2 separate regions of the Homo sapiens genome follow, and region 1 is linked to region 2. A link means that fine-mapping ties the variant in region 2 to the expression of a gene that starts in the linked region. Tissue or cell type: minor salivary gland. Region 2 holds a variant in brackets; the other region holds the start of a gene. All regions are shown on one strand. Distances are from middle to middle.

Evidence for each region. PIP is the estimated chance that this variant, and not a neighbour inherited with it, causes the effect.
Region 1: it holds the start of RFWD3, and the variant in region 2 is fine-mapped to the expression of RFWD3 in minor salivary gland (GTEx, PIP 0.97).

Annotation. Positions count from the first base shown.
Region 1 is chr16:74,665,277-74,667,884 of GRCh38, forward strand. It overlaps RFWD3 (ring finger and WD repeat domain 3), which reads right to left and starts at 1,601. Exons shown (of 13, transcript NM_018124.4): 1 at 1,510-1,601. It also overlaps the pseudogene TMPOP2. RefSeq lists a silencer at 1,131-1,280.
Region 2 is chr16:74,039,220-74,041,979 of GRCh38, forward strand. No RefSeq gene overlaps it. Among named protein-coding and RNA genes, the nearest start is that of PSMD7-DT, 170 kb to the right of the region's middle. The variant T/C (reference allele first, on the strand shown) is at 1,147.

The DNA of each region.
Region 1 (2,608 bases), 630 kb after region 2:
ATCTCTACCAAAAAAGAAAAATAGAACAGGTCAGGCGCGGTGGCTCACACCTGTAATCCCAGCACTTTGGGAAGCCGAGGGCAGACCACTTGAGGTCGGAGTCCCAGAATGGCCAATATGGTGAAACCCCGTCTCCACTAAAAATACAAAAACTACCCGGGTGTGGTGGCGCATGCCTGTAATCCCAGCTACTTGGGAGGCTGAGGCAGGAGAATCGCTTGAACCCGGGAGGCAGAGGTTGCAGTGAGCCGAGATCGCACCACTGCACTCCAGCAGGGGCAACAAAGCGAGACTCTATCTCAAAAAAAGAAAGAAAAAAGAAAAATAAAACAATGAGCCGGGCGTGGTGGCGCGCACCTGTGGTCCCAGCTATTGCGGGAAGCCGAGGTGGGAGGATCCCTGGGGCCCGGGAGTTCGAGACTGCAGTGAGCTCTTCCAGCCTGGGTGCAACAGGGAGACTTTTCTTTCTTTCTTTCTTTCTTTTTTTGAGATGGAGTTTCACTCTTGTTGCCCAGGCTGGAGTGCAATGGCGTGATCTCAGCTCACTGCAACCTCGGCCTCCCGGGTTCAAGCGATTCTCCTGCCTCAGCCTCCCGAGTAGCTGGGAAATGGGGTTTCTCCATGTTGGTCAGGCTGGTCTCGAACTCCTGGCCTCAGGTGATCCGACTGCCTCGGCCTCCCAAAGTGCTGGGATTACAGGCCTGAGCCACCGCTTTTCTCTTTATAACACCTTTTTCTCTTTATAACAGGAAAAAGGGAGGAAGAGAGAGGGAGAGGGAGAGGCGGAGGGGGAAGAGGAGGGAGAGGGAGACGGGAGGGGAAGGGAGAGAGGGAAAGAAGGAAATTAAATCCCTGTTCTTTTACTACATGGGGAAAGAAAGACATAGATAGATTAGATAGACAGATTAGATAGATAGATAGATAGATAGATAGATAGATAGATAGATTGATTAGATACATAGATATTAAATCCCTGTTCTTTTACTACATGGGGAAACTTTGGGCGGGTTTCCTAAACTCGGCTCAACTTGTTCTCCTGTAAAACAGGGATAATACAAGTCTTTACTCCACAGTTTCCGTGATGAAATTAAAAATGAAGTTCTTCCATCAACTTTAAAGTGATGAAGTAATCGGCGCTCAGAGCGGGCGCAGGCAACGCCGCTGAGGAGCCCGAGGCTAGGCTCTCGGGGGAAGGGCCGGGCGACCTCCCACCCCGGCCAGGGCAGGCCCCGCAGCAGCGAACTCGGCTCCTTCAGTGATCGCCCCGAGCTCTCGCCTGCCCAGCCCCCACGCCCAGCAACCCAGATACGCGCGGGGGTTCGGGCTCCTTAGCCCCGACCACTGGCGCCGCCCCGAGGGCCCGAATCCCCTCAGGCCGCCGGGTTCCAAGCCCGCGTGCAGCCCACCTCGTGGGGTGTCTCCTGAATCCCAATCCAGGAATCAGGCGTGGGGAGGTTTATCCCGAAGCTAGAGGCCCAAGGCCTGAGGAGAAGCAACACCCCTCCTCACCTGAAACCAGCAGGCCGCGGCCGGGCTCGCGAGCCCGCCGAAGACTCGGTAGTTACCTCGGCCGCACTCCGAATGCACCTACGCCAACTGCCACTTCCGGAGCCGCTCAAGCTCCCGCCAGAGCCGCCGGCAGGCATGCTCCTATTGGACAGAAGCCCTACGCTGTGGCCAATACCCACTCTTCTTCTTCAATGGGTCCCCCGATAGCTGAAGCAGCGGTGCTCTCATTGGCTGGTAGTTCGTCCTGACGAGGCGGGACCGCGCTTGAGGAAGCCTCCTACAATTGGCAGGAATCTACGTCCGTCACCTTGCACCCGCCCCGGAAAAAATGGGAGGTTTTTTTGTTTTTTTTTTGTTTGGTTTTTTTTTTTTTTTTTAGCGCGTTTTATTTGAACTTTCTGGCGGGAGAAAGTTATATGATTTCTCGGTCCATTTTGGAATGGGGATGATGATATTAAAACTGACTCCTGCTGCTTATCCCTAACGCTTTAGTGAAGGAGTTATCTGTATCCAAAGGATAGCAGCTAATCGAATAATTTCAAAATATTTCAATATTTTGAATTTCGGAGCCTGTAAAGAGGCGTAGGACAGTCCAGTTCATATGTATCCTCTCATGGGGTTGAAGAGCTCACGCAAAATACTTTGCCTACATAATCTCTTCAATCTCAAACCGCTGCAAGGGATCTGAGCTACTGAACAGTCTCAAATCACTTGTTAGGGCCGCCGCTCGCCGCCAGCGCCAAAAGAAAGGGGCCCCCGGAATTCTCCAGCTACGTACGAGGAGCGCGAGCCCACAGCCGTCTCGGCTCCGAGCCCGCCGCCGGCAGGAAAGCCACAAAGAAAACTGATAAACCCAGACAAGATGATAAAGACGATCTAGATGTAACAGAACTCACTAATGAAGATCCTTTGGATCAGCTTGTGAAATACGGAGTGAATTGTGGTCCTATTGTGGGAACAACCAGGAAGCTGTATGAGAAATAGCTTTTGAAACTGAGGGAGCAAGGAACAGAATCAAGATCGTCTCCTTCAGCAACAATTTCTTCTTCAGCAGAAAATACAAGGCAGAATGGAAGTAATGATTCTGACAGATATGGTG
Region 2 (2,760 bases):
ATGAATTGGAATTCTTTCAATATGGGAATTAAAAAAAAAAAAACTAGAAAAATCAGTCACTTGCTACAGATGACCTCAAACTGCAACGGACATGCATCTCCAATTATAAATTTAAAGTTCTAAAATCAGCTTAACCTAATATATTATGACTTTTTGGCAGGAGAAATAGGTGTTATTTGGATTTTTTTTTTTTTTTTTTTTTGAGACAGAGTCTTGCTCTGTCGCCCAGGCTGGAGCGCATTGGCATGACCTTGGCTCACTGCAACCTCTGCCTCCCAGGTTCAAGCGATTCTCGTGCCTCAGTCTCCCGAGTAGCTGAGGAAATAAATTTTTTGAAGTTTAAAAGTAAGTGAGGAGCAAGACACAGCAAAGACACAAGGGAAAATTTCACAGAAAAACAGCAAAGGATAAAAGCCATCACTTCACATTTGAAAACAAAGTTTTTGCTTTTCATTATATTTGGCCTCAAGTGATTTTTATTGTGTTTTTCCCCTAATTTTCATGGCAAAGGAATTGAATAAGAAATATATGGATTAGTATTGTGTGCTAGCAATAGTCTTCTTGGTTTAGGTCATTCAAAAATCAGCTGGGAACCCTGTGGAAAATCAGCTGGGAACTCTATGTTTAGGCTGAGAAGGGAGGACTGGAAAGAGATTGTGATACAAGAATGCAAATATCCACTTATTCCACTGGCTGTCCAAAGGCAATAGACAGAAAAGCAGCCCAAGTCAGCTAGAATCTTTTTTGCACCTCTGCATGAGACACCTTAGTAGGCTTCAGCCATTGTCCTGAGGCCACAGTGGAATCCTAGGGTACAACTCTGAAGCCTCCCCAGCTTACCTTCTGCATCAGTTAGGAAAATTTTGGCTTTGGGTAATAGAAAACATAATTCAAACCATATGGGCATTTATTATCACAGTGTTTTAGGCAGGGCAGCCTTCAAGTTCCTCCTCTTCCTCTTAAGGTTGCCTTCTCCCATGTGTTGACATTAGCCCAAGACTGATCACAAGATGACTACAATGGTTTCAAACACAGCATCCAGACCCAACAATGGCCAGTGAATAAAGGACCTCCTATCTTTCCCCTCCTCTAACAGTGAAGAAACCTTTTCAAGAAACCCCTCAAGAAACTTCAATGTATCTCTTT[T/C]TGGTGGGGGTACAGCATTCAATTCACAGCACAATTTTTTCAGCAAGATTTTCCTCCTGCCTCAATTACATCACGTGTCTCTGTCTAGAACAGTCATGAGCAAGAGGAATGCTCTGTGATTGACTTGGATTCACTGGGACCCCCTAGCAGGGGATGGGCCTAGCATCCTCTGAAGCATAGAGCCATGCGTAGGAAGATGTTAGAAAACCGGAAGAACTGCATTTTCTGGTGGGAAGAAGAAAGGAGGGGATGACTGTTGGGGTGAGGCTGCTGTCAGGAAGCTAGAGAACAACCTTAGTAGTGTTGCTCTGGCTGTTCACGTGGTGACAAACCATTTGGACTGGGAGTGAGCCCTGGTAAAAGGCCATCCACTTCTACAAGGAAATTCTTGTTGAGATAACCATACTCACAAAATTATTAACAGAGGCAATTATTTCTCCTATAACCATGTATGTGTTCATGTGTTGCCTGAGCTTTTTTTTTTTTTTTGTCATTTTAAGAGTTAATCGTCATTTGATAGATATCGTCCCATCTCCAATTTGAGTAGATCCTTCTTTCAGATCTCATACCACTTTCTTGTTACCTTTAGTAGATATTTATTTATGTCTGCCTTTTTATTTGTAGTTCTATTTATCTTCATTGAGAGTTCACCTTTACTATTCCAAAGAACAGTAAGCATGACTTATTAATGATCCCCTCATCCATTCATTATTATACTTGACATAATGTCTAATACTTGTATGAATGAACTAAATGAAAAGAGATATGAAGCTTGCAATGTATAAAGTTCTAATTCGTTGCACTTCCATCCTCTTTTTACCTATCATTTCTTAATGTTTGGAATTCACATGACATATCCATTTCACACTATTACTGTTTCAGTCATTCAAGTTATGGAGATCCTATCCTGTTATATGGTATTTTTTTTCACTTCCAAGAAGATAGCCCTAGCAGAAATGCTCACAAAGATATATAAAGATGTTCACAAAAGCATTATTTATAATAGCAAAAAAATGGAAACAACTCAATATACAACAATCAGATTGCCTAGATAAATGATACATCCATTCTGTGGAAAATAACTACTAAAAAGTTATGGTTTTGATTAATAATAAAAGGCTCATAGTAAATTCTTAAAGTGAAAAAATAACATATATAGTAGAATCCAAATCTAACGAAAAGAAAATAACACGATAAAAAAATGGGAGGCTCTTCTAGCCAAGATAGCAGATTGAGGTGAGGTATAAAGTCTCTCTTCCCCCTTTAAACACATCTAGAAAGCCTAAATAAAATTTAAGGAAGATTTTCAAAGCCCATAGCTGGACTCGAAAATAAGAAAAATACATTTATAGGGGCCACAAAAATAAGCCTTTGTGTCCTTCAGAAGAAGTAGTGGAGGCAGATTTTAGCATAGACACGGAAAATCAAGATGACAAACCCTGGCCAGGCGCTGCAGCTCACGCCTGTAATCCCAGCACTCTGGGAGGCCGAGGCGGGCAGATCACGAGGTCAGGAGATCGAGACCATCCTGGCTAACACGGTGAAACCCCGTCTCTACTAAAAATACAAAATTAGCCGGGCGTGGTGGCGGGCGGCTGTAGTCCCAGCTACTAG